Linked DNA regions of Homo sapiens. The protein of the gene in region 3 interacts with the protein of the main gene of each other region in a biochemical or structural test. Each region holds a gene or a part of one and is shown on either strand. Other genes may lie near its edges. The genes, in order: WWTR1, AICDA, USP10 and ANLN.

What was found.
Region 1: of the proteins of USP10 (region 3) and WWTR1, one has a biochemical effect on the other in vitro, tested with the Homo sapiens proteins (one study listed by BioGRID).
Region 2: the proteins of USP10 (region 3) and AICDA form a complex in vitro, tested with the Homo sapiens proteins (one study listed by BioGRID).
Region 4: the proteins of USP10 (region 3) and ANLN form a complex in vitro, tested with the Homo sapiens proteins (one study listed by BioGRID).

Annotation. Positions count from the first base shown.
Region 1 is NC_000003.12:149,516,472-149,522,524, reverse strand, and holds the end of WWTR1 (WW domain-containing transcription regulator protein 1), read left to right. Parts: intron 1-1,535; coding exon 1,536-1,720; 3' UTR 1,721-5,290; downstream 5,291-6,053. UniProt on the Homo sapiens protein: Transcriptional coactivator which acts as a downstream regulatory target in the Hippo signaling pathway that plays a pivotal role in organ size control and tumor suppression by restricting proliferation and promoting apoptosis.
Region 2 is NC_000012.12:8,602,536-8,610,297, reverse strand, and holds part of AICDA (single-stranded DNA cytosine deaminase), read left to right. Parts: intron 1-3,285; coding exon 3,286-3,433; intron 3,434-4,812; coding exon 4,813-5,083; intron 5,084-5,375; coding exon 5,376-5,491; intron 5,492-5,960; coding exon 5,961-6,014; 3' UTR 6,015-7,762. UniProt on the Homo sapiens protein: Single-stranded DNA-specific cytidine deaminase. Involved in somatic hypermutation (SHM), gene conversion, and class-switch recombination (CSR) in B-lymphocytes by deaminating C to U during transcription of Ig-variable (V) and Ig-switch (S) region DNA.
Region 3 is NC_000016.10:84,773,000-84,780,761, forward strand, and holds the end of USP10 (ubiquitin carboxyl-terminal hydrolase 10), read left to right. Parts: intron 1-2,160; coding exon 2,161-2,226; intron 2,227-5,895; coding exon 5,896-6,083; 3' UTR 6,084-6,923; downstream 6,924-7,762. UniProt on the Homo sapiens protein: Hydrolase that can remove conjugated ubiquitin from target proteins such as p53/TP53, RPS2/us5, RPS3/us3, RPS10/eS10, BECN1, SNX3 and CFTR.
Region 4 is NC_000007.14:36,420,485-36,428,246, forward strand, and holds part of ANLN (anillin), read left to right. Parts: intron 1-112; coding exon 113-260; intron 261-1,372; coding exon 1,373-1,508; intron 1,509-2,148; coding exon 2,149-2,325; intron 2,326-3,332; coding exon 3,333-3,459; intron 3,460-4,060; coding exon 4,061-4,109; intron 4,110-4,201; coding exon 4,202-4,258; intron 4,259-5,217; coding exon 5,218-5,256; intron 5,257-5,530; coding exon 5,531-5,552; intron 5,553-6,431; coding exon 6,432-6,544; intron 6,545-7,762. UniProt on the Homo sapiens protein: Required for cytokinesis. Essential for the structural integrity of the cleavage furrow and for completion of cleavage furrow ingression. Plays a role in bleb assembly during metaphase and anaphase of mitosis.

The DNA.
Region 1 (6,053 bases), on a different chromosome or scaffold from region 3:
TTAACGTTATTTTTCAATATCAGTAACACTATATTGAGGTCATATTGTTGAATTTGATTTAATTTTTCAGTTTACTACCCTTTGCAATGAAAATACTGTAAAATGTTACCCAGGAGTCATTTATATTTTGTGACTTCTAGAAAAGCCATTGTGTTTTGCTATCACCAAAATCCAAATTGGATGATGGTTCCTTCATCATTTGGAAGGATATAATTTTTCTCCCTGGAAAACACAGATTGCTAAAGTGAACTTTCGGCAATTTTGCTTAAAATAGTGAAACTTCCCTACACACGTTTCAGGAAGGCTACTGCACTTGTAACACACAAAAGATAATTTAACAAGTTTTTAAAAAATGACGTTATGGTGGAAGCTGGCCTTAGTTATCAATGCTTCTCAATTTTTGAAGTAGATATTATCTCTTCAGAAAATTGTTTGGGACTTTTTGAATTAACCTGTTGTTTTGATATTGTGTAATTAATAGTGGCTGAAGACCTGGGTTTTTCTTTCTCTCAGGACAATGAACATTTATTATATTTTTGTATGTATATAACTTTGTATATATCAATGACACCCAGAGCCATGGATATGTGGCAGACACTATATGGCACTTTACTCTAACTTTTGTAAAAGGAGCATATGATCCCAATTTCTAGATGGGTAAACTGAGAATCAGGCAGGTTAAGTGTGTCTAAGCTTACACAGCCACAAAGCTCGATCTAATGACACCAAAGTCAGTAGTGCATTCTGTCCCATACTATGACACATAAAGAACCTATATTCTTCATGTCATATCCCAGACACCTACTTTTCCTCTAGTACAGCATTTTCTCACCTGTGTTCTGTAGAACTTCAGTTTTATTTGAATACACATACTGCCAAAATAGGTTTAGGTGATTAAATGGGTTTAGGAAATAGTGTCTTAAAGAAAACAAAAGATTTCTTTACTCTAAGACTTAAAGCCTTAACATGCTCATATGCACTGTGCTCATATGCTTGTGAGAAAGGCAGATAGTTGTAGGGTGTAGGTATTACAGAAAGAGGGAAAACGTCTGCAGAACTGCCTTTATAAATGATGCCTAAAGTCATCAATGAAGACAACTTTTTAATAGCCTGGTTAAAAGAAGCTTCACACCATTCTCTTTGAACATAAAGAAGGATGGTATGGGTAAACCTAAGCTTACAATGAAACCTGTAGATTATAGTTCTGTAATAAGCTGTTTATTACAGACAAGGCCTCTCTACTCTTTTGTAAAACAGTTCTTCACACCTTTGTCATGGGAAGGCACAGATCATAGATCAGATCCACAGTGCCTTTCACATGCTCCTTTCTTATCTCCTTGGCCTTTTCCATTCTGGACCACACCTATCCAGAAATAATTTTCGATTTCTTCCACATCTCTGTACCTCTTATGAGTAAGGGTCAATAATGTGGTAGTTGAAGACATGAAGGTGAGGGTTATGTAAATACTTGAACTGTTCCTCCTTCAAGAGCCTAAAAGAAGGAATTAAAATGGTTTCTTTTCATTTTGTTATAGGAGAAAACGCAGGACAAACACCCATGAACATCAATCCCCAACAGACCCGTTTCCCTGATTTCCTTGACTGTCTTCCAGGAACAAACGTTGACTTAGGAACTTTGGAATCTGAAGACCTGATCCCCCTCTTCAATGATGTAGAGTCTGCTCTGAACAAAAGTGAGCCCTTTCTAACCTGGCTGTAATCACTACCATTGTAACTTGGATGTAGCCATGACCTTACATTTCCTGGGCCTCTTGGAAAAAGTGATGGAGCAGAGCAAGTCTGCAGGTGCACCACTTCCCGCCTCCATGACTCGTGCTCCCTCCTTTTTATGTTGCCAGTTTAATCATTGCCTGGTTTTGATTGAGAGTAACTTAAGTTAAACATAAATAAATATTCTATTTTCATTTTCTGCAAGCCTGCGTTCTTGTGACAGATTATACAGAATTGTGTCTGCAGGATTGATTATGCAGAATACTTTTCTCTTTCTTCTCTGCTGCCCCATGGCTAAGCTTTATGGGTGTTAATTGAAATTTATACACCAATTGATTTTAAACCATAAAAAGCTGACCACAGGCAGTTACTTCTGAGGGCATCTTGGTCCAGGAAATGTGCACAAAATTCGACCTGATTTACAGTTTCAAAAACTGTATTGATGACAGTAGTACCAAATGCTTTAAAAACTATTTAACTTGAGCTTTAAAAATCATTGTATGGATAGTAAAATTCTACTGTATGGAATACAATGTAATTTTGAATCCATGCTGGCTCTGATGGCTCTTATTAGTCTGTATTTATAAAGGCACACAGTCCTATTGTAGCTTATCTTTCGTTATTTTACTGCAGAGCATCTAGACAACTTAGTCCCTCCAGCGGGAAAGTAGCAGCAGCAGCATTAGTCACAGGTCTTACACTACAGATCTTGTGAAAGAGACCAGTTTGGTACTAATTATGAGCATTTTATTCAAACAAAAGTTTTTGAAATATTACAACTGGGGATTTAAAAAATTGCAGCTTAGAATCTGATGGTTTTTTTTTTTCTTGATGTTGTTTGTTTGTTTTTGAGATCGAGTTTTGCTCTTGTTGTCCAGGCTGGAATGCAATGGCACAATCTCGGCTCACTGCAACCTCTGCCTTCTGGGTTCAAGCGATTCTCCTGCCTTAGCCTCCCGAGTAGCTGGGATTACAGGCACCTGCCACCACGTCCGGCTAATTTTTTGTATTTTGAGTAGAGACGGGGTTTCACCATAATGGTCAGGCTGTTCTCAAACTCCTGATCTCAGGTGATCCACCCATCTCGGCCTCCCAAAGTGCTGGGATTACTGGCGTGAGCCACCGCACCCGGCCTTGATGTTTATTTTATAAAGCACTGTAATTTTGTAGCTGATGACAAAAGGCAGCCAAATGTTTTTGATAAATCAGTGGCAACTGTATTTTTGTCTTTTGAAATAACTCTGAAAACATCAGGACAACATAGATTTCAACCTGATAGCACACCACACACAGTGAGCTGTTGCTTTTTAAATTCTGAAGCCTTGTCAGGTTTGCTTCCTAGATTTCAAGTGTTTAAAATAATTCTATCTATGAAACTGAAGGATGAAGCAGATCTCTGACTGACATGTAAAAAAAAATGCCCTTTGAGGGTGTATGGTGGAGATAAATGTTTCTGAATTCAGTAAAATTGATTCCTAAGTATATTATCCTAATCCTGTTTGCTACAGTTGGTATAAAAAGGCATGAAATATGTATTCAATACCTCTTATGTAACCAAAACCATTTTTAATTAGCTTTTAAGGACTGAGAGAGCATCATGTTCAACTGGCATGCAGTCTGCCTGCATTGCCAATGAAGTCCTCAACTGTTTAATATTTTGAACTAATATTATTTATAATCTATGAATTTAATCTTTTTTGAAAGACTTTAATAATTTGAGTCTCTGAGAGGATACTTTCAATTTCCATGGGGGACTTATTTGTTGGGGATCTTAAATAAGATTCCTTTTGATCTACCGGAATATACATGTACAGAGTACATTGGATCATGTTGGAAAGAAGGCAAGTGAAAAGGTCAGAGATGAAGTAGCAAAGTTATGGAATATCGTGGAAAGGATACTAGTTGTGAAATGGAAAGAGACAAGTTATAGTACCCCAAAAGCAAAACAAGCAGGAGATGCAAGAGATGCCCCAAAAGGACAAAGCAACAATTTTCTGTTGCCACCTTTATACCGGAAGACTCTGTTGTAGAAGAAAAGAAGGCTTTGGTGCACCTTATGTGGGAGGAGGAGGGGCAGGGCATGCTGATGCTGAGCGTACAGGCAGACAAGAGCGTAGCCTGCTGTTGCCTCCATCACTATGAAATGACTTATTTTACCTGAAGGACCCATGGTTTATGTTCCTCTAATTCCTTTCACTCTCCCTAAGCCCTCTGAGAGAGATGAAGATAGATGATTTTATTGCTACTAAATTGAAGGGAGCACTATTTCTTTTTGTCTTTTGTTAGCAAAAAATTGCAAAAAGAATTGTACATTCTTGCTAAAAATAAATAAATAAATAAAAAATTAAAAAAACAAGGGACCTAACAAAACTCAGCAGTGTTACTGTATTTTTAAAAAATATTTTTATAGACTCATTTTCAGGTTATTAAATGTAAGAGAAACAGATACCCCTCTTTTTTAAAGTAGGTAAATCATTGATGATTTATATTACCAATTTTTAGAAGTAATTTTCTAGTAAGCTTGTGGCATCAGAAAATACTAGAAGATTTTTTTAGTTAAATTAGTTAGAACATTTATGAATGAATATAATAAATATTTTTTCAGAATAAAATATGGACCCTTTGTGTTTACTAATAGATAAAGCCAGATATAATTTTTTGTTTTTAAGGCCACAAAATATGGCCTTTGTTAAAGAACACTAAAGTTAGAAATCTAAAGTTAGAGCAACTTTTTAATGGCTATTTCCTATTATTGTAAGTGTTAAAACCCCTGCAGAATTCTTGATAAGGTGCTATTTATACTATATTTCTTATTATAAGATAACTGTCTTTAGTCTTCTTAGTACTAGTCTTTTTAGTACTAAATCAATCAGTAAACATCATCATTTCACCCCAAAATTTTGTCACAGAAAAGGCGTATCAAATGAAAAATAATTTCAGAGATCTTTCTTTCAAGATATTTTTTCCTGATAAAATACATTGTCTTGAAGTAAATACATTGTCAAAACCTAATTGCAATTCTGTTAAATCTAAGTAATTTTTAGACAGTGTTTCACCGTATTATTTAGGATGTGAAATGCCATTTCTTTCACTGATTACACCATATACAGGAAACAGGTAAAACAGTGAAAACTTTATTGTGCTGGTTGATGCCAACTTGGTTGAAAAGCTCTCTGCAGAAGAAGTGATCTAGACTGACAGAAGTGTTGCTAATTACAAGTTGTGTTCTCATGACGTAATTAGAAAGTAACTTCTCAAAGTACAACTTTTATGAAAAAAATAAGCTGTTAAAAAAAGGAAATCGTAGGTTAATTTAATTGGGAAAATGGGCAATTGACAGAGACCATTTTCCTAACACATATATGTGCTAGTACTTTAACTTTTTAAAATTTTACTTCTACGTTTTGTAATATAAAAATTTCTATTTTAAGTTTAGAATGTTATACGTACCGAAAGTATGCAGCCAAATCGATCAGATCAAACCATTTTACCTGGAGTTTGGTACTGGTTTTTACTTCTCTGAATCTGTATAAGAAAAATAAAGACAATTGAACTTCCACTTGGAGCTTTTGACTTTTCATTATTTGTCTGTGTTCCTTTTACTAGGGGATTTGGGTGGTACTGAAGACAGGCTTATGTAACCCTCCTGGCAGACAATGAAAGAAAGAAAAATCTGCAGGCAAACAATTTCTTGGCTCACGTGCCTGGCCTTCAACATTCTAAATGTTCACAGAATTCTAGTTTCCACTTTATTTACAATGTCCACTGAGGTTTTTAAAGGTGTATATATACACCTTTAAAAATAAAAACATATACCTTTAAATATATATATATCACATCATTGTCCTCCCAACACCCTCACAGATTTGACAAGACCATCAAAAATACAGGATTCTTGCTGGGCACGATGGCTTATGCCTGTAATCCTGGCAATTTGGGAGGCTGAGGCGGGAGCATTGCTTGAGCCCAGCAGTTTGAGACCAGCCTGGGTAACATTGTGAGACCTTGTCTCTACAAAAATATATAAACATTAGCCAGGTATGGTGGTGTAGAATATACAACAAACTCTTATAAACCAATAGAAAAAACAAACAGCCCAATAGAAATATGGATCAATAATGTGAATGGAAAGTTTATAGAAGATGAAACTGGCTGGTGACTAATTTACCAACCTCATTCCAAATCAGAAATTTAGATAAATAATGACTGAATTCCCAGTGGCTCATAGGCTTGCTGGAACTCTTTCATTGACCTAGACTCTGCAACCTTTTCCTACTGGCTGTTTTTGAAATCGGTTTCTTGTAACTTAAAAGTTTGAGTTG
Region 2 (7,762 bases), on a different chromosome or scaffold from region 3:
TAATCCCAGCACTCTGGGAGGCTGAGGTGGGTGGATCGCTTGAGCCCTGGAGTTCAAGACCAGCCTGAGCAACATGGCAAAACGCTGTTTCTATAACAAAAATTAGCCGGGCATGGTGGCATGTGCCTGTGGTCCCAGCTACTAGGGGGCTGAGGCAGGAGAATCGTTGGAGCCCAGGAGGTCAAGGCTGCACTGAGCAGTGCTTGCGCCACTGCACTCCAGCCTGGGTGACAGGACCAGACCTTGCCTCAAAAAAATAAGAAGAAAAATTAAAAATAAATGGAAACAACTACAAAGAGCTGTTGTCCTAGATGAGCTACTTAGTTAGGCTGATATTTTGGTATTTAACTTTTAAAGTCAGGGTCTGTCACCTGCACTACATTATTAAAATATCAATTCTCAATGTATATCCACACAAAGACTGGTACGTGAATGTTCATAGTACCTTTATTCACAAAACCCCAAAGTAGAGACTATCCAAATATCCATCAACAAGTGAACAAATAAACAAAATGTGCTATATCCATGCAATGGAATACCACCCTGCAGTACAAAGAAGCTACTTGGGGATGAATCCCAAAGTCATGACGCTAAATGAAAGAGTCAGACATGAAGGAGGAGATAATGTATGCCATACGAAATTCTAGAAAATGAAAGTAACTTATAGTTACAGAAAGCAAATCAGGGCAGGCATAGAGGCTCACACCTGTAATCCCAGCACTTTGAGAGGCCACGTGGGAAGATTGCTAGAACTCAGGAGTTCAAGACCAGCCTGGGCAACACAGTGAAACTCCATTCTCCACAAAAATGGGAAAAAAAGAAAGCAAATCAGTGGTTGTCCTGTGGGGAGGGGAAGGACTGCAAAGAGGGAAGAAGCTCTGGTGGGGTGAGGGTGGTGATTCAGGTTCTGTATCCTGACTGTGGTAGCAGTTTGGGGTGTTTACATCCAAAAATATTCGTAGAATTATGCATCTTAAATGGGTGGAGTTTACTGTATGTAAATTATACCTCAATGTAAGAAAAAATAATGTGTAAGAAAACTTTCAATTCTCTTGCCAGCAAACGTTATTCAAATTCCTGAGCCCTTTACTTCGCAAATTCTCTGCACTTCTGCCCCGTACCATTAGGTGACAGCACTAGCTCCACAAATTGGATAAATGCATTTCTGGAAAAGACTAGGGACAAAATCCAGGCATCACTTGTGCTTTCATATCAACCATGCTGTACAGCTTGTGTTGCTGTCTGCAGCTGCAATGGGGACTCTTGATTTCTTTAAGGAAACTTGGGTTACCAGAGTATTTCCACAAATGCTATTCAAATTAGTGCTTATGATATGCAAGACACTGTGCTAGGAGCCAGAAAACAAAGAGGAGGAGAAATCAGTCATTATGTGGGAACAACATAGCAAGATATTTAGATCATTTTGACTAGTTAAAAAAGCAGCAGAGTACAAAATCACACATGCAATCAGTATAATCCAAATCATGTAAATATGTGCCTGTAGAAAGACTAGAGGAATAAACACAAGAATCTTAACAGTCATTGTCATTAGACACTAAGTCTAATTATTATTATTAGACACTATGATATTTGAGATTTAAAAAATCTTTAATATTTTAAAATTTAGAGCTCTTCTATTTTTCCATAGTATTCAAGTTTGACAATGATCAAGTATTACTCTTTCTTTTTTTTTTTTTTTTTTTTTTTTTGAGATGGAGTTTTGGTCTTGTTGCCCATGCTGGAGTGGAATGGCATGACCATAGCTCACTGCAACCTCCACCTCCTGGGTTCAAGCAAAGCTGTCGCCTCAGCCTCCCGGGTAGATGGGATTACAGGCGCCCACCACCACACTCGGCTAATGTTTGTATTTTTAGTAGAGATGGGGTTTCACCATGTTGGCCAGGCTGGTCTCAAACTCCTGACCTCAGAGGATCCACCTGCCTCAGCCTCCCAAAGTGCTGGGATTACAGATGTAGGCCACTGCGCCCGGCCAAGTATTGCTCTTATACATTAAAAAACAGGTGTGAGCCACTGCGCCCAGCCAGGTATTGCTCTTATACATTAAAAAATAGGCCGGTGCAGTGGCTCACGCCTGTAATCCCAGCACTTTGGGAAGCCAAGGCGGGCAGAACACCCGAGGTCAGGAGTCCAAGGCCAGCCTGGCCAAGATGGTGAAACCCCGTCTCTATTAAAAATACAAACATTACCTGGGCATGATGGTGGGCGCCTGTAATCCCAGCTACTCAGGAGGCTGAGGCAGGAGGATCCGCGGAGCCTGGCAGATCTGCCTGAGCCTGGGAGGTTGAGGCTACAGTAAGCCAAGATCATGCCAGTATACTTCAGCCTGGGCGACAAAGTGAGACCGTAACAAAAAAAAAAAAATTTAAAAAAAGAAATTTAGATCAAGATCCAACTGTAAAAAGTGGCCTAAACACCACATTAAAGAGTTTGGAGTTTATTCTGCAGGCAGAAGAGAACCATCAGGGGGTCTTCAGCATGGGAATGGCATGGTGCACCTGGTTTTTGTGAGATCATGGTGGTGACAGTGTGGGGAATGTTATTTTGGAGGGACTGGAGGCAGACAGACCGGTTAAAAGGCCAGCACAACAGATAAGGAGGAAGAAGATGAGGGCTTGGACCGAAGCAGAGAAGAGCAAACAGGGAAGGTACAAATTCAAGAAATATTGGGGGGTTTGAATCAACACATTTAGATGATTAATTAAATATGAGGACTGAGGAATAAGAAATGAGTCAAGGATGGTTCCAGGCTGCTAGGCTGCTTACCTGAGGTGGCAAAGTCGGGAGGAGTGGCAGTTTAGGACAGGGGGCAGTTGAGGAATATTGTTTTGATCATTTTGAGTTTGAGGTACAAGTTGGACACTTAGGTAAAGACTGGAGGGGAAATCTGAATATACAATTATGGGACTGAGGAACAAGTTTATTTTATTTTTTGTTTCGTTTTCTTGTTGAAGAACAAATTTAATTGTAATCCCAAGTCATCAGCATCTAGAAGACAGTGGCAGGAGGTGACTGTCTTGTGGGTAAGGGTTTGGGGTCCTTGATGAGTATCTCTCAATTGGCCTTAAATATAAGCAGGAAAAGGAGTTTATGATGGATTCCAGGCTCAGCAGGGCTCAGGAGGGCTCAGGCAGCCAGCAGAGGAAGTCAGAGCATCTTCTTTGGTTTAGCCCAAGTAATGACTTCCTTAAAAAGCTGAAGGAAAATCCAGAGTGACCAGATTATAAACTGTACTCTTGCATTTTCTCTCCCTCCTCTCACCCACAGCCTCTTGATGAACCGGAGGAAGTTTCTTTACCAATTCAAAAATGTCCGCTGGGCTAAGGGTCGGCGTGAGACCTACCTGTGCTACGTAGTGAAGAGGCGTGACAGTGCTACATCCTTTTCACTGGACTTTGGTTATCTTCGCAATAAGGTATCAATTAAAGTCGGCTTTGCAAGCAGTTTAATGGTCAACTGTGAGTGCTTTTAGAGCCACCTGCTGATGGTATTACTTCCATCCTTTTTTGGCATTTGTGTCTCTATCACATTCCTCAAATCCTTTTTTTTATTTCTTTTTCCATGTCCATGCACCCATATTAGACATGGCCCAAAATATGTGATTTAATTCCTCCCCAGTAATGCTGGGCACCCTAATACCACTCCTTCCTTCAGTGCCAAGAACAACTGCTCCCAAACTGTTTACCAGCTTTCCTCAGCATCTGAATTGCCTTTGAGATTAATTAAGCTAAAAGCATTTTTATATGGGAGAATATTATCAGCTTGTCCAAGCAAAAATTTTAAATGTGAAAAACAAATTGTGTCTTAAGCATTTTTGAAAATTAAGGAAGAAGAATTTGGGAAAAAATTAACGGTGGCTCAATTCTGTCTTCCAAATGATTTCTTTTCCCTCCTACTCACATGGGTCGTAGGCCAGTGAATACATTCAACATGGTGATCCCCAGAAAACTCAGAGAAGCCTCGGCTGATGATTAATTAAATTGATCTTTCGGCTACCCGAGAGAATTACATTTCCAAGAGACTTCTTCACCAAAATCCAGATGGGTTTACATAAACTTCTGCCCACGGGTATCTCCTCTCTCCTAACACGCTGTGACGTCTGGGCTTGGTGGAATCTCAGGGAAGCATCCGTGGGGTGGAAGGTCATCGTCTGGCTCGTTGTTTGATGGTTATATTACCATGCAATTTTCTTTGCCTACATTTGTATTGAATACATCCCAATCTCCTTCCTATTCGGTGACATGACACATTCTATTTCAGAAGGCTTTGATTTTATCAAGCACTTTCATTTACTTCTCATGGCAGTGCCTATTACTTCTCTTACAATACCCATCTGTCTGCTTTACCAAAATCTATTTCCCCTTTTCAGATCCTCCCAAATGGTCCTCATAAACTGTCCTGCCTCCACCTAGTGGTCCAGGTATATTTCCACAATGTTACATCAACAGGCACTTCTAGCCATTTTCCTTCTCAAAAGGTGCAAAAAGCAACTTCATAAACACAAATTAAATCTTCGGTGAGGTAGTGTGATGCTGCTTCCTCCCAACTCAGCGCACTTCGTCTTCCTCATTCCACAAAAACCCATAGCCTTCCTTCACTCTGCAGGACTAGTGCTGCCAAGGGTTCAGCTCTACCTACTGGTGTGCTCTTTTGAGCAAGTTGCTTAGCCTCTCTGTAACACAAGGACAATAGCTGCAAGCATCCCCAAAGATCATTGCAGGAGACAATGACTAAGGCTACCAGAGCCGCAATAAAAGTCAGTGAATTTTAGCGTGGTCCTCTCTGTCTCTCCAGAACGGCTGCCACGTGGAATTGCTCTTCCTCCGCTACATCTCGGACTGGGACCTAGACCCTGGCCGCTGCTACCGCGTCACCTGGTTCACCTCCTGGAGCCCCTGCTACGACTGTGCCCGACATGTGGCCGACTTTCTGCGAGGGAACCCCAACCTCAGTCTGAGGATCTTCACCGCGCGCCTCTACTTCTGTGAGGACCGCAAGGCTGAGCCCGAGGGGCTGCGGCGGCTGCACCGCGCCGGGGTGCAAATAGCCATCATGACCTTCAAAGGTGCGAAAGGGCCTTCCGCGCAGGCGCAGTGCAGCAGCCCGCATTCGGGATTGCGATGCGGAATGAATGAGTTAGTGGGGAAGCTCGAGGGGAAGAAGTGGGCGGGGATTCTGGTTCACCTCTGGAGCCGAAATTAAAGATTAGAAGCAGAGAAAAGAGTGAATGGCTCAGAGACAAGGCCCCGAGGAAATGAGAAAATGGGGCCAGGGTTGCTTCTTTCCCCTCGATTTGGAACCTGAACTGTCTTCTACCCCCATATCCCCGCCTTTTTTTCCTTTTTTTTTTTTTGAAGATTATTTTTACTGCTGGAATACTTTTGTAGAAAACCACGAAAGAACTTTCAAAGCCTGGGAAGGGCTGCATGAAAATTCAGTTCGTCTCTCCAGACAGCTTCGGCGCATCCTTTTGGTAAGGGGCTTCCTCGCTTTTTAAATTTTCTTTCTTTCTCTACAGTCTTTTTTGGAGTTTCGTATATTTCTTATATTTTCTTATTGTTCAATCACTCTCAGTTTTCATCTGATGAAAACTTTATTTCTCCTCCACATCAGCTTTTTCTTCTGCTGTTTCACCATTCAGAGCCCTCTGCTAAGGTTCCTTTTCCCTCCCTTTTCTTTCTTTTGTTGTTTCACATCTTTAAATTTCTGTCTCTCCCCAGGGTTGCGTTTCCTTCCTGGTCAGAATTCTTTTCTCCTTTTTTTTTTTTTTTTTTTTTTTTTTTAAACAAACAAACAAAAAACCCAAAAAAACTCTTTCCCAATTTACTTTCTTCCAACATGTTACAAAGCCATCCACTCAGTTTAGAAGACTCTCCGGCCCCACCGACCCCCAACCTCGTTTTGAAGCCATTCACTCAATTTGCTTCTCTCTTTCTCTACAGCCCCTGTATGAGGTTGATGACTTACGAGACGCATTTCGTACTTTGGGACTTTGATAGCAACTTCCAGGAATGTCACACACGATGAAATATCTCTGCTGAAGACAGTGGATAAAAAACAGTCCTTCAAGTCTTCTCTGTTTTTATTCTTCAACTCTCACTTTCTTAGAGTTTACAGAAAAAATATTTATATACGACTCTTTAAAAAGATCTATGTCTTGAAAATAGAGAAGGAACACAGGTCTGGCCAGGGACGTGCTGCAATTGGTGCAGTTTTGAATGCAACATTGTCCCCTACTGGGAATAACAGAACTGCAGGACCTGGGAGCATCCTAAAGTGTCAACGTTTTTCTATGACTTTTAGGTAGGATGAGAGCAGAAGGTAGATCCTAAAAAGCATGGTGAGAGGATCAAATGTTTTTATATCAACATCCTTTATTATTTGATTCATTTGAGTTAACAGTGGTGTTAGTGATAGATTTTTCTATTCTTTTCCCTTGACGTTTACTTTCAAGTAACACAAACTCTTCCATCAGGCCATGATCTATAGGACCTCCTAATGAGAGTATCTGGGTGATTGTGACCCCAAACCATCTCTCCAAAGCATTAATATCCAATCATGCGCTGTATGTTTTAATCAGCAGAAGCATGTTTTTATGTTTGTACAAAAGAAGATTGTTATGGGTGGGGATGGAGGTATAGACCATGCATGGTCACCTTCAAGCTACTTTAATAAAGGATCTTAAAATGGGCAGGAGGACTGTGAACAAGACACCCTAATAATGGGTTGATGTCTGAAGTAGCAAATCTTCTGGAAACGCAAACTCTTTTAAGGAAGTCCCTAATTTAGAAACACCCACAAACTTCACATATCATAATTAGCAAACAATTGGAAGGAAGTTGCTTGAATGTTGGGGAGAGGAAAATCTATTGGCTCTCGTGGGTCTCTTCATCTCAGAAATGCCAATCAGGTCAAGGTTTGCTACATTTTGTATGTGTGTGATGCTTCTCCCAAAGGTATATTAACTATATAAGAGAGTTGTGACAAAACAGAATGATAAAGCTGCGAACCGTGGCACACGCTCATAGTTCTAGCTGCTTGGGAGGTTGAGGAGGGAGGATGGCTTGAACACAGGTGTTCAAGGCCAGCCTGGGCAACATAACAAGATCCTGTCTCTCAAAAAAAAAAAAAAAAAAAAGAAAGAGAGAGGGCCGGGCGTGGTGGCTCACGCCTGTAATCCCAGCACTTTGGGAGGCCGAGCCGGGCGGATCACCTGTGGTCAGGAGTTTGAGACCAGCCTGGCCAACATGGCAAAACCCCGTCTGTACTCAAAATGCAAAAATTAGCCAGGCGTGGTAGCAGGCACCTGTAATCCCAGCTACTTGGGAGGCTGAGGCAGGAGAATCGCTTGAACCCAGGAGGTGGAGGTTGCAGTAAGCTGAGATCGTGCCGTTGCACTCCAGCCTGGGCGACAAGAGCAAGACTCTGTCTCAGAAAAAAAAAAAAAAAAGAGAGAGAGAGAGAAAGAGAACAATATTTGGGAGAGAAGGATGGGGAAGCATTGCAAGGAAATTGTGCTTTATCCAACAAAATGTAAGGAGCCAATAAGGGATCCCTATTTGTCTCTTTTGGTGTCTATTTGTCCCTAACAACTGTCTTTGACAGTGAGAAAAATATTCAGAATAACCATATCCCTGTGCCGTTATTACCTAGCAACCCTTGCAATGAAGATGAGCAGATCCACAGGAAAACTTGAATGCACAACTGTCTTATTTTAATCTTATTGTACATAAGTTTGTAAAAG
Region 3 (7,762 bases):
CGAGTATTAACAGCTGTGTTGACTAGCCCAGTTAAGTGGTTTTTAGTGAAGTAAGAATGATTTCTCATAGGCAGTGAGAGTCCCTTCTAACCTCTAGTTGTGGTGGCGCACAAATAAGACGTGGCACTTACCAGCCTCAAGTCTCTGTCAGGTCACGGGCTCGGCACTTTTTGAAAGCAATTTTAAAGAGCCCCAGGTTAAAGGCATCTTGCTAAAAGCACAGCTTCAAGAAGACTTTTCTTGAAAGCTTTAGAATTTGTGAAAACGTATAGTACAACACTGAGGCTTGATTGGGACTGTGATTAGCTAGAGAGGATTCTCAGAATATCGAGGTGTTTGGGAAGCAGAAAAGAGGACACTGGGCCTCACTCCTGGGTCCTGCAGAGGAACAAACCTGAACCGAGAGTCCTCTTCTCTCCGTCCCCTGGCACAGCAACCCCACCTCATACCTCCTTCCATATAGATGACCCAGGAACTGTGGGCATGGCTGGCTTCTAGCCGGCTCCCTGTCTACCCTAGGGGCGCCCTATACCTTCCCGTGAAGACTCAGACACTGTCTCTCCCAGGCCTGCACACAAGAGCTGTGCTTTCTGCTGACGGGCTTGGCTGCTGTGCCGGGTTTAGTGTCCGTTGCTCCTCTCACACTTCTAGCTGCCTTATCACTCATCAGCCGATTGCTTTTTAATCCCATTTGAGGACCAGCAAGAGGAAGAAAGATGCCAGTGAGAATCATGTAACAGATCCTCCTCCCCATTTTATTCTATCCATCGGGAAACCTGGAATGCCGGCTAAGTCAAAGAAGGCATCCTCGGCCTCTGCTCCTGCATCTTCACTCGCCTCCAGATCAGCTGTCTGAGCTGACTTGGATGTTTTGCTACAGTGATTTTATTTTTATATCTTTTCTTGCTTGCTGTATTTTTATATCCGCTGCCACCTCCAATACATTATCAAAATATGACATAAATGGGGGCTGGGCGCAGTGGCTCACACCTGTAATCCCAGCACTTTGGGAGGCCGAGGCAGGCAGATCACCTGAGGTCAGGAGTTCGAGACCAGCCTGACCAACGTGGTGAAACCCCAACTCTTCTAAAAACACAAAAATTAGCCTAGCATGGTGGTGGGTGCCTGTAATCCTAGCTACTTGGGAGGCTGAGGCAGGAGAATCGCTTGAACCTGGGAAGCAGAGGTTGCTGAGATCATGCCACTGCACTCCAGCCTGGGCAACAGAGCAAGACTCCATCTCAAAAAAATAAATAAATAACATAAATGGGGGACAAGAGGACCTCACTTGGGTCATGGGTCAGAAGTACAGATGGCTGCCTCGAACAGCATGCCTCCGACGGACTCTTGTGTCGGTGTAAGTGGTACTTCTGCGCACAGTAAGAGCAGGGAGTTCCCGCCTCGTAGCAGCTGGTAGACTGGTTCCTATTTGGAGAAATCATGTTACTGTTCTGTAACTGAAGTTTTGTTTTGTTTTTTTTTTGTTTGTTTGTTTTTTTCTTGCTCTGTCACCCAGGCTGGAGTGCAGTGGCGCGATCTCGGCTCGCTGCAACCTCTGCCTCCCGGGTTCAAGTGATTCTCCTGCCTCAGCCTCCCGAGTAGCTGAGACTACAGCCGCGTGCCACCACGCCCGGGTAATTTTTTGTATTTTTAATAGAGACGTGGTTTCACTGTATTAGCCAGGATGGTCTCGATCTCCTGACCTCGTGATCGCCCGTCTCAGCCTCCCAAAGTGCTGGGATTACAGGCGTGAGCCACCGTGCCTGGCCTGTAATTGAAGTTTTATGATCTGACGCATATGTAAAATTTTAATTCTTGCCTTGGATTTTTCACAACTGTTTTTGTTTTTAAGTCAGCAGCTTTTTTCTTTTCCATTTTGTAGAGCACCTGTTTTTAAGGGGCCTCCCACAGGAGCATCACAGCCTCGGCCGTTGCTCCTGTTTCTTTAGTGAGCTGGCTGCACATTTTGTGTCCTATTACGTCACATGGCTCATTTCCTTCATGAGTCAATTTTTGTGCAACTGAAGGGATAGAGTGTTGTTTTGTTCCTGGTCTGACAGGCAGTTTACTTGCTGGGGAGAATGTTGTTAGCCATTTTCTGCTGCTGTTACCCTGAACCTTTCTAAAAGTGCTTCAAGCCATTGATATTTTGTTTTCCAGAACTGCTTTCTCCAGGGGTTAAAAATAAGAATTTTAAATGCCACCGAACCTATCGGCTCTTTGCAGGTGAGTAAATTTGTACGACATTACTTCTTCATTAAAACACTGATGAAGGGGTTTACAGCTGGGCACAGGTTTGCTGCAACTTAGCATAGCGACCAGATGCTGTACTCAGGTATCCCTGTGGCCTTGTGAGTCGGGGAGTCACGTGAGAGTTTTACCTGAAACTCTGCGTAGATGACGGATTATCATCTTGGCCCTGAGGACAGATAACAGAAGACCTTGCTCAAAGCGAACATTTCTGTCTTTGAGTCAGAGGAGGGAGTTTCAGGCTCCCAGGCTGGCTGTTTGAGAATGTGACCTCTCCCGGCTGTGCTTGTGGCACCTGTGGGTGACAGTGCTGTGGAGTTTCCACGACACCTGGTCACCCAGCCAGGTTGGGTGAGCGCGCCCCCAGCCGGTGATCCCTGCGTCCTCCCCCACAGGTATTGTTAGGGCTGCTTGAGAGGGTGGGCCCGATTACACAAGCTCCTCGGCTGCCAGGCCCTCAGTCAGTCATGAGAAATCTCCCAACAGGGTGAATGGCACCCCCTGTTCCCTCATGGGTGGACCTTGAGACCTCTTCTGTCTCCTGGCTTAGGCTCCCTGCAGTATCATTTTTTCTGCCACATCATCTTCCCTTTCCTTTCTGCCTTCCCTTTTATCCTTCTTTCTCTTTTATAGCGTCATCTTTTATGCCTCTGAGTCTTTACCTCTTTGGATTGTTGCTGTTTGCCGCACTTTTGTTTGCTTCCCAGGCTGTTTTTACTACATGTTTCTAGCTTCTGTGTCTTCCCTCCTCTGGTGTGGCCTTTGGTGAACCTGTTTGTATCGTAACATAACACTGCCATTTATTGACCTTCACACATGTATTGAACCTCTTCCCAAGATATTCTTTCATTTCCTTACATGTGTCCTAGGAGATGGGAGGTGGGATCCCTGTTTTATAAAAGAATAAACCAGAACTCAAGGAAGAAAACTCACCACTCTGGCCTGCAGTGGCAGAGCAGGGCTTCAAGCTCCTGTCCACCTCAGCTCACGCCCGATGTTTTAGGAAGTTTGGCGAGTGGGTGAGGGCCCAGGGATGGGGGCCCAGGGGTGAGGGCCTAGCGGTGGGGGCCCAGGGGTGAGGGCCCAGTGGGTGAGGCCCAGAGCCACACTGCAAGGTGCCAGGCTTCCCTCTCTTCCTCTCACTATTCATTGTTCCTTTTGACTCTCTTCTTTTCTCCCCCCGATCACAATTCCTCCTCAACTTGCTGGGCCTCAGATGGGACGGCCATGGGCACCACGCGCTTGTGGGTGTCTCCAGCCCTGTCTGGAATGGAAGGTCTGAGTCCTCAGACTCTGCAGCCAGCCATTATCCTGCCTGGCTCCTTGGAGTGTGGCACCCAGGTCCCAGTGGGTGGCCAGCAGTTTCTCCGCCTTCTCCCTGCACCTCTTCCCCTGGAGGCTCTTGCGGGGGACATCACTGGGCAGGGGCAGGGGCTAGGGATTGCTCCTCTCCTGGTCAGGGCCCCAGTGTGAGCACACACACCCCTCCCCGACTCTGCAACCTGCCTCGCCCCGGGACCTGGGCCTGGGTTGCTCTCCCCTGCCCTCCTGAATCCTCATCCCCTAACCCATTATTTTTTTGAGATAGAGTTTTGCTCTGTCGCCCAGGCTGGAGTGCAGTGGCACAGTCTCCATTCACTGCAACCTCTGCCTCCCAGGTTCAAGTGATTCTTGTGCCTCAGCCCCCCGAGTAGCTGGGATTACAGCTGTGCACCACCACATCCAGCTAATTTTTGTATTTTGAATAGAGACGAGGTTTCGCCCTTTTGGCCAGGCTGGAAGCCTATTCTGATCTTGGAAATGAGGTCACCGGACTGGTTAGAATTACCTGTAGAGTGAGCAAAGGAACACTTTTTAAGAACTGCTGTGATTGTGGGGCCTGGGAGAAGCAATCTCGCGCACAAGCTTTTCAGGCGGTTCTCAGCGCTCCTGTCAGGGGGGCTTGCAGGTGTGAGTGACACACGGCTCAGCCCAGGGTAGTTAACTGGGCTGCTGCTTATGAAACTAGAATGGTGACATGCAGTCCCCCTTGACATTTTAGAATGGAGATGTCTTGTGGGAAAGACAAGTTAGTAAAACCCCCAGGCCCTGCAGATTCTACTGATGGTCGCTTTGAAGCAAAACTCTTAGCCCAGTCAGTTAGGTCTGTGAGGTGAAGATCTAGGACAGAAGTCTCAAAGTGAACTTGGGATCCAGGGGACATGCTGCTGTCATGGGTGCTTCCTGCCCTTTCACAAGATGGCTGTGACTTGTGCAGCACAGGATGAAGCTATGCCCTTGGATTGGCTGTGTCCCTGGCTCTCCGAAGTACGGGCCCCACAGTCTTGCTGTCCCTATGCTGTTCAGTCTCCTCCGGGGTCCCTGCACAGAGGATTTCTTTGTGCAGAGCCCAGGAGTCTGACTGGTGGCCTCAGTCATAAGCACTGTCCTCTAGCCAGCCAAGGTCCCTGGCCCAGAGAGGACTGAGGCCTCCTGCTGTCATTTAGCCCCTCCACGTGACAACTGCGACTAGAACCTGGTGATGTTTGGTCTTGTTTTAGTGCTGAAATTCCCTACCAGCCAAGTCTTGCATCTCTCCTGGTTCCTTTTCTTTTGTGCCACTGATGGTGGGCGCAGCTTAGCAGGCTGCCCTGTCATTCCCCGCGGAATGCTGCCGGACAGCCGCCTTCCCGAGGCTGGTGTCTGCTGCTGGCCAGGCAGACCTGTGCCCCTCTGCTCCATAGAAGTGGAGGATGTGTTCTGTGGCTGTCTTAATGTTTTCATGACATCTTCTACAGATTTTTTGTTTTAGGCCTTTGACTAAGGCTTCTTGGTTATAGGATTTTTTTTTTAAGTAAATAACTGTGTGTGTGTGTGTGTGTGTGTGTGTTTTGTTCTGTTAAAACATAGAAAAATGGGTAATTTTTTTTAAAGGCAAATGCGTAACTACCAGCACCATCTCCGCAGTGCCCCACCACAGCTCCACGCTCAAGCAACCGTGGTTAGCAGTCCCAGGGTCCCTCCTGCCATGTGGGCCGGCACCGGGAGATTGTGTCCCGTGTCTTTAGGATAGATGGGCCACAGAAGGCCTAAGGACCTTGTTTTCTCATTTAATATACCATAAGCGTATTCCCGCATCACCATTCTTAATCTATTCCACGAAAAAATAAATTGTGTTATTTTAATATAATTTACTCATCAGTCATTTCTTCTAGTGGCTATTGAGGTTTTCCGTTTTTTCACTGTTATAAATGACATCATAATCTCTGTCCAAGATTCAGATAATCTCTTCAGGACAGTCTAGAAGTAGAGTCAGCCACATCCAAGGGCATGAGCCAGGTCTGTAGGCCTGTACAGCTGATGGCTGTGTAGGAGTGTCTGTGTGAGGCGTGGGACATTTTAAATATGTGGTTAATATGCGTACATGCACACATGTACCTATCTGACTTACCCTTACCTTGCAGTTATAGAAAAGTTTTTATTATGGATTGCTTGCGTGTTTGAGTTGAAATAGCATTGGTTTGTGTGATGACATCTCTCTGTCCCACCTGCTTTGGAGAGGGGTTTTACACATAGGATGCATCCCTGGAGGGAAGTCGGCGGAGACCTGTAATGATTCGTGTGCAGTGCTGTTCTCACTCTGCTGCCTGCTGGGCTCTCTTCCAGTGGTCTACCATCACGGCAACAGTGCGACGGGCGGCCATTACACTACAGACGTCTTCCAGATCGGTCTGAATGGCTGGCTGCGCATCGATGACCAGACAGTCAAGGTGATCAACCAGTACCAGGTGGTGAAACCAACTGCTGAACGCACAGCCTACCTCCTGTATTACCGCCGAGTGGACCTGCTGTAAACCCTGTGTGCGCTGTGTGTGCGCCCAGTGCCCGCTTCGTAGGACACCACCTCACACTCACTTCCCGCCTCTCTTTAGTGGCTCTTTAGAGAGAAACTCTTTCTCCCTTTGCAAAAATGGGCTAGAATGAAAAGGAGATGCCTTGGGGTTCGTGCACAACACAGCTTCTGTTGACTCTAACTTCCAAATCAAAATCATTTGGTTGAAACAGACTGTTGCTTGATTTTAGAAAATACACAAAAACCCATATTTCTGAAATAATGCTGATTCCTGAGATAAGAAAGTGGATTTGATCCCCAGTCTCATTGCTTAGTAGAATAAATCCTGCACCAGCAACAACACTTGTAAATTTGTGAAAATGAATTTTATCTTTCCTTAAAAAAGAAATTTTTTAATCCATCACACTTTTCTTCCCTACCCTTTAGTTTTTGATAAATGATAAAAATGAGCCAGTTATCAAAGAAGAACTAGTTCTTACTTCAAAAGAAAAATAAACATAAAAAATAAGTTGCTGGTTCCTAACAGGAAAAATTTTAATAATTGTACTGAGAGAAACTGCTTACGTACACATTGCAGATCAAATATTTGGAGTTAAAATGTTAGTCTACATAGATGGGTGATTGTAACTTTATTGCCATTAAAAGATTTCAAATTGCATTCATGCTTCTGTGTACACATAATGAAAAATGGGCAAATAATGAAGATCTCTCCTTCAGTCTGCTCTGTTTAATTCTGCTGTCTGCTCTTCTCTAATGCTGCGTCCCTAATTGTACACAGTTTAGTGATATCTAGGAGTATAAAGTTGTCGCCCATCAATAAAAATCACAAAGTTGGTTTAAAGGTGTGTGCGTGTTTCTTTGAATGCGAATGCCTTTTCGGGTAACTGAAATTCATGGGGGCATGAGTTTGCCTGCAGAATTAAAATCTGCCCTTCGATCAGCTCGACGTGTTTGTGGAAGCTGAACCACCACTCAGGTTATGCTTGTTTAGTATTTTCAAATGGATTAGTGATTTGGGTACACGAAGTTTTTGACTCTTCGATTGGCAGAAAGGAGGAGGTTTTCTCCCCTTCCCCTCCTCATCCCTTGTTTCTATAGCCCACCGTTTTCAGTATCACCAAAATAGTTGCTGTAGGTCAAGGCTAAATGCTCTTCAGTTGAGTGCCACTGGGGCGGCTGAGCGGTGCCTCCAGACGCCACCCTCAGTAGTGGGAAGGAAGCCTTCTGAGACGGAAGACATGGAGAGAGGGATGTCACGTGCAAGGGTGCCCGTGCCCCGGCTTCTGGCCCTGTGTGGATGATTGTGGTGTCCTGAGATCTACAGAGAAGGGGTTTTAACGTGGTCTGAGCCTTTCTCTCAAGTTCTTGCTCTTACCATCTGGTATTTCTGATTGTAGCCTGGTGCCATCTGGGGTTCAGAGCTTCCTAAACTTTCTGTACAAGTGTTGTCCGTCTAACCTACTTACCCTTTGTAATTCTATTGTGATTTGCTTGGCTGAATTATAACTCATATTGAGAGGTGAAGCCAGCTGGACTTCCTGGGTCAAGTGGGGACTTGGAGAACTTTTCTGTCCTCTAAGAGGATGGTAAAATGCACCAATCAGCACTTTGTAGCTAGGATTGTAAAACGCACCAACCAGCACTCTGTAGCTAGCAAGAGGTTTGTAAAATGCACCAATC
Region 4 (7,762 bases), on a different chromosome or scaffold from region 3:
ATGTTCTGCTGACATGTTCAATATCAGTGTCAAATTCTGCTGATATGTTCAATAAAGGATAGTGCTCAGTGTGTTGCTGGATTTCTAATAGAGTGTAACTTACCTCTTGAAGCATTGATGCATATAGATCTCAAAGATTCAAAGAAACAGAACGTCCATCAATAAAGCAGGTGATTGTTCGGAAGGAAGATGTTACTTCAAAACTGGATGAAAAAAATAATGCCTTTCCTTGTCAAGTTAATATCAAACAGAAAATGCAGGTATGTACTTTTGTGGAAAGGGGCTTTGGAATGTTTCTTGCACTAGGCTGTGAGCTCTGTGAGGACAAAGGGCCCAGCCTTACTTATCTCTGAACCCTGAGTGGCCAGAATAGTGTCTGATGCATAGAAGCTCAGTAAATCACATTTGAATTCAGTTTATTTTTGGAAAGGTACTCTTTTTGAAAACTTGGAAACTCATTTGATATTGCTGAAATATTTATTTTTAAACAAGTTTTTCATAAATATCCTTAAAGTATAACTATTAATTGGATAATGATGTAGTGGGAAATTTGTTATGCTCTTCAAGGTTTTTTCATGCTAAGGAAGCTTTTTTTTTTTGAGACAGCATTTTGCTCTTTGTTGCCCAAGTTAGATTGTAATGGCGCAATCTTGGCTGACTGCAACCTCTGCCTCCCGGGTTCAAGCAATTCTCCTGCCTCAGCCTCCCAAGTAGCTGAGATTACAGGCATGCACCACCACACCTGGCTAATTTTTATATTTTTAGTAGAGATGGGGTTTCACTATGTTGGTCAGGCTAGTCTCAAACTCTTGAACTCAGGTGACCCACCCACCTCAGCCTCCCAAAGTGCTAGGATTACAGGCATGAGCCACCATGCCTGGCTTTTAAAAAAAATATTTTAATTATAAAAAAAAATAGAGATGGAGTCTCACTATGTTTTCTAGGCTGATCTCACACTCCTGGGCTCAAATGATTCTTGTGCCTTGGACTCCCAAAGTGCTGGGATTACGGGTGTGAGCCACCATGCCTGGCCCTAAGGAAGCATATTAAAAAAAAACAGTGTAATTGTAATTTAAATAAAATGAATCAGATACTTTCTAAATTTCTACGTTGTTGGATGTAACCCCAATTTTAACTTTAATAAGTATGAATTGGAAGTTTTTTCATAAGGAATAATATTTATAGCTTAATTATTGTAACATGCTAAATGTTTTTGGTGCATAGTCGAGAAACTTGAGCAGTGAAACTAACATTTTGACTTTCATCTGGAAATTCTAGAAACTATCCAATCAAGTTAGTTAGAATTAAAATTTAAAGTGAAAATGATGATTTAAAATGTGTATATTTTTTCTCCTCTCATTGGTTTTCCTAGGAACTCAATAACGAAATAAATATGCAACAGACAGTGATCTATCAAGCTAGCCAGGCTCTTAACTGCTGTGTTGATGAAGAACATGGAAAAGGGTCCCTAGAAGAAGCTGAAGCAGAAAGACTTCTTCTAATTGCAAGTAAGTGTGATGCACCTGAAAGAGTTCCAACAAATTTCTAACCAGGGAAAACTCATTTTGATATTTAGAAATCTTTAAGTTTAGAGAAAGGGCTTTTCCTAGTCATCTGTTCCAGTGGATCTATTTTTTGTTCTTGTTTTTATAAGGTTTAAGAACTCTATGTAAAACAAATTGTAGTTTGCATGAAAGGTAGAAGCAACCGAAAGGCATTTGAAGAAATGCAGTTGTGCAGATTGAATGAATGAATGGATGAATGAATGAATCTCTATATATACACATGTACACATACATTCTCTCTCTCTCTCTCTCTCTCTCCCTTCCTTCCCTTATCAATAAATAGCTAAAACAACTTCTGTGAATTTTGCTGTGTGCGTATATGTGGTGATGATGGGGCATTTTGGGGTGGACAGATGATACCACACATGAAAACTAGCCGAAAGTTGATGTATTAAATTATAAGGACTTGGTAAATGAGCAACCAAGGTTTTCCCCAACCACCTACCATGTTTTATAAAGATAGTGTTACTGATTTCGTCTTCGCTGTTACGTACAGTTTCCATATCAGTACACTTTTTTGAATTTGCTCTCATTAGAAACAGTTACGATTTTAATATTTGGAATATTGCGTTGTTTTACATAGCTGGGAAGAGAACACTTTTGATTGATGAATTGAATAAATTGAAGAACGAAGGACCTCAGAGGAAGAATAAGGCTAGTCCCCAAAGTGAATTTATGCCATCCAAAGGATCAGTTACTTTGTCAGAAATCCGCTTGCCTCTAAAAGCAGATTTTGTCTGCAGTACGGTTCAGAAACCAGGTATGGTGGTGATTTTTCTAGATTGTGTGTTAAATTATGAACCTCACCTAGATTGAATTGTACAGAATAGAAACAAGTAAATCATGCATAACAATGCAAAGTTTGTATCTTTGGCCTTTAGGTCCTTTTATTGAGATATAATAAAAATAAGAAAACTTCAGATATATATAGGGATACCAATCTACACAATAATGGACATTGCTCTTACTGAAAGTTTGAATATAAAGTTTTATTAAATGTTGGATATGGTTTTTAAAGTTCCTTTTAAAATTTTATTTGTGTGGAACACAAATTTTTTTGTGTGTGTTCTGGAATACCAAAGAAATAAAGGAATACTGAACTGATTTATACACAATTTATTTTAAAAAATTTCTTTTTGAGGGGAAGGAGGGCTAGACATAGGTGAGAAGCAAATTTCAGGCATAGGGAAAGTAAATGGAGGTTGTGAAAGGTTTGAGCACTTTTGTAGGAATAAGGTAATTTAGGTTCTAATTCTTGATGTTATCTGATTTTGATGGGGTGTGGGCAGAAATTTATTGGTAATTTAGTATGCGTCTGGAGGTACGTGGTTATTAATGACAAATGGTGAAGAAATAGTTTATGTTTTTATTATCATTTATCTCTGAGTAACTTTTATAGAAATACAGTATTTTAATTTCAGTTTTGAAATAACAAACCATAATTTACCCTTTTGAGATATGTACTATTAGTTAAGAATTAAGGGTCACTAGGTAAAATTCAAAATCAGCAGAAATTGAGAAATGTGGAGTGAAATTATTTCAATTTACATAACAGGGAGAGACCTTGATGATGCTTATTTCAGGATTATACTGCCTACTTAAGTCTTATTTAGCTTTTTGTGTCTGGAAAGTTGATTTTAGTAATTTTAAAAATAAATTGTATATAAATCAGTTCAATATTCCTTTATTTCTTTGGTATTCCAGAATGCTGATTAGCTAAATCTGATTTTGCTTGTGCTTACTATGTAATATGATTACTTCTTACAGATGCAGCAAATTACTATTACTTAATTATACTAAAAGCAGGAGCTGAAAATATGGTAGCCACACCATTAGCAAGTACTTCAAACTCTCTTAACGGTGATGCTCTGACATTCACTACTACATTTACTCTGTAAGTAAATCAGGCTTTTGATGATTCGAATGCATTTTTCTTTTTGTAGAGTTGATACAGTCTAAAGCATTCAGGTGGCATTTATAATCTTTGAAACGCCTTATGCACATTCTTTTTATATTGACAAATAACCCATCTTTCAATTTGTTGCTTTAACTCATATGTTTCTATCCTTCCTTTTGTTGAATAGCACCTTTTTTCCACATGACTGTAGGTATTACATATTTTGAAATGATATATACATTAAACCTGGACCATAGATTTTTAACATATGCCTTAAATCTCATAATGTACTTAACATTCAGTCTTAATGAAAATACGTTTATATTTAGTGAAACATTTATTTTTAAATAAGAGTCAAAGTGCAGTTTGAAAAATAATTACTACTTTTATTATTGAAGATTGTGAGTTGTAAAACACGGAGGAAAATATTTTGGACTTGCATTATAGGGAAAAAATAGACTTCTTAACAATTTTTATTGACTTTAAAGTCATAGTGGATTCCTTTACTTAGAGTCTTGTAAGAGTATTTGTAGCATCATTTTTAATGGTGTGATTGAGGTTTTCTCTCAAGGTTTTACTTAATGCTTTATTTTTCCAGGCAAGATGTATCCAATGACTTTGAAATAAATATTGAAGTTTACAGCTTGGTAAGCTGATAAAGCCTTCTAAAATAATGAAGAGTATATTTTTCTTAACAATATCAGATTATAAATTAATTATGCTTTGGGTTTGTGCGTAGGTGCAAAAGAAAGATCCCTCAGGCCTTGATAAGAAGAAAAAAACATCCAAGTCCAAGGTGAGAATTAAAGAAACCCAGTAAAAATATTTTCATCAGAAGTAATAGATATCATCATACCAGTTTTAATTTATGTACAACTTTTAATGATTAGGAAGTTTTTGGATCAGTTTCATGTTCCAATTTGTAGTTACTATGTTAAATAGGTATGAATACTGAAAATAAACTGTGAGTGATCATGATTGTCAGTATAAGTTCCTGATACACTCGGGCTAGATAATTCTATTTTCTCTACATTTACTTGGCAACTTTTATAACTGCTTAAAACTTTTCTCAAGACTTTTCCCTGAGCCCTCTTCTCTCTGTGTTCTCTATACCAGTACTTAATAATTATGTGGTCACTTTGCAGGCATAAGGTTGCTTTCCAGCCTTCCCAGTCTGTGTTCTTTTCTTAAGTCATCATTTTAAAAACTTTTTTTTTTTAGCTCTAACAAAAAAGGACTAACAGTATAAGAAAGCCTTAATCAGGGACTCAAGTGTAATGTTTTCATATTTAAGAATTAATTACTCAAGGACTCATGTGTAATGTATTCATATTTAAGAACTCATTCTTTTTTTTTTTTTTTTTTTGAGACGGAGTCTCGCTCTGTTGCCCAGACTGGAGTGCAGTGGCGTGATCTCAGCCCACTGCAACCTCCACCTCCCAGGTTCAAGCGATTCTCCTGCCTCAGCCTCCTGTGAAGCTGGGACTACAGGTGTGTGCCACCACATCTGACTAATTTTTTGTATTTTTAGCAGAGAGGGGGTTTCACCATGTTAGCAAGGGTGGTCTCAATCTCTTGACCTCATGATCCGCCCGCCTCAGCCTCCCAAAGTGATGGGATTACAGGCGTGAGCCACTGCTCCCGGCTAAGAATTAATTATTTTCTATGTAGGAATTTCTCAAGGTTGGATAGTTTTACTTTCTGAGACATAATGTTTAATAAGAAATATATATAGTAAGCTATCTTTTCTTTTAGGCTATTACTCCAAAGCGACTCCTCACATCTATAACCACAGTAAGTAGAATTTTTGAGAAATTGAGCTTCCTTGAGAAATCTTCATCTTACCCATACAGTTTTAAATTGGTTAACCATTTCTGAACCTTGAGCACTGTGGAAAATTTTAACATGTACTAATGGGGGGATATCCCTGTAATTTATGTAGGAAAAGTGTTTTCTGAAATGTATTTCTTATTGTGTTAAAAGAGATGAGTGATTCATATTTAAATCTTTGTATTAAATAAGGGAAATAACTTATGTTTCTTCTTCACACCTTTTTTTTTTTTTTTAGAAAAGCAACATTCATTCTTCAGGTGAGTGTATCTTGAACTATTTGAAACTTTAGAATAAGGTAAGGAATTAAGCACTTGCATATTTACATATATATAGGCCATCTTGATTTGTGAATGTTTACCTTGATCTCCTTTGGAATAATATTTTCTATGTGAGTTTCTTAGTAACAGGATTACTGGCCAGAGTAGGATGCAGTTTGGTTGCACCTTTGTTAGGTACCACCATAGAGGCACCAGTCATCATGTTATTCAGCTCTAGCAGCAGGTGGCATTACTCTTTACTTCAACTTCTATTGTTCTATAGATTTGTTTTGTGCTTTCCATACTGCAGATTTTACTTCTTTTAGCTTTACTGATCATAACTGGCGTTGTATCATGTCAGAAATGCATCTTTCTAGTTCACTGGGAACTGGAATGCTGTTAAGCCAGGAAAGGCCTTCTTTAGAATGACTTTAGGCCTATCTTTTTCCAAAAGGAATTAGGATGGAGCTGGTTTCACTCACTTCCTTTAGGCTATTGGTCTCTTTCTTCTCTGTGGTGCAAGAGAGTTACTAAGAGACCTGTACAGAGATAGTTTCTGCTGCTGATTTTGTCACCCTGCATTATAACTAGCACTGAAGTCTTTTCCATGTTTTTTATCGGGAAGTTGCTTTTTATGCATACATTTTTAGGTCTATATCTTTAAAAACACATCCATCCCAATTATTAAGGAGTGCTTGTACCTCTTTCATTAGGAAATAAGTTGATTTTTCCCCCCACATTTAAAGATGAAGGAAAATGAGGCAGTTTTTTTTTCTCTGTGGCAGCTTAATTTTCTTCTACTGGGATGGGGTGAGGAATTGTTACTTATACTTAACAAAAGTCATTCTGAACTAAACTTAATTTCCTCGTTCTTCACAGTCATGGCCAGTCCAGGAGGTCTTAGTGCTGTGCGAACCAGCAACTTCGCCCTTGTTGGATCTTACACATTATCATTGTCTTCAGTAGGAAATACTAAGTTTGTTCTGGACAAGGTAATCCAACTTTATTTCTAAGGGTGTGGTGTTTTTTTTTTAATCTTAGAAAAATTAGCTCAATGGAAATGCCACAATGCTTTTAGGTATTTGAAATCTTCGACTGAAAACATATGTTCTTAGAATTGCACATTTTTGCTAGGTATGAGTGTACCTAAATGTTTTTTTTTTTTTTTGTCTTGGAAGTATGTCTCCCTTTTAATAGTTAGAACTTCAGTGGATGCTTGCTTATTCTAAGTATCACTTCTGACTAAAGAAGTATTACTTCCTGCATTTAGATGTTAAGTTTATAATTTTAAAACATAATATCTTGCCTATTTCCATTTCTTTGTGGTTTTTTTTGTTTTTTTGTTTTTTTGTTTTTGAGACAGGGTCTCACTCTGTCACCTAGGTTGGAGTGCATGGCTCACTGAAGCCTCAGCCTCGCGGGCTCCCACCTTAGCCTTCCAAGTAGCTGGGACTACAGGCACGTGATGCCACGCCTGGCTAATTTTTACTATTGTTTTGTAGAGATGGGGTTTCATCGTGTTGGCTAGGCTGGTCTCGAACTCCTGGGCTCTGGCCATCTGTCTGCCTTGGCCTCCCAAAGTGCTGGGATTATAGGTGTGAGCCACCTTGCCCGGCCAGCCTATTTGAACCTATATTTTGAAATGAACAATATTTTATGAATTTAGTTTTGACAAGACAGTGAAAGGTAGATTAACCTCTTAGAAAAGTACTTACGAATCTAAGAGATTTCCTTCTCATACTTCCCTTTCATATTAGAAGCTTCAAAAATCAGATCTGTGTTAACATCACTATTGAGTCTTTTTTTCACCAAGACTATTTTAAGGAGTAAGACAACTAGAGGCAAATTTTATTTCTTGGGTTGACTTCTATATAATACAGTGATAATTTATATTATCATGTGAGATTTCTGTAGTGCGAATATAGAGATGAAGAAGTGTAAAAATTAGAAGCCCTGGTTTCTAGTATTTACCCTTAGTGATTTACTCTTTAACATTGAGCAAAGTCACCTCATCTCTCTAGGGTCTTGTTTTCCAGTACAGAAATATTAGTTTAGCCTGAAACAATCTAAAATTCTATGAAATGCTTTCTTTTAGTTGATGGACAAAAAGCAGACTGTATTTGAAGTTTTGATTACTATTAATGCATGAATGTGTTTTAACAAGTTAATTTTAAAAATTTTTGTAACTTTTTATTTAGTAATTCAGCTAC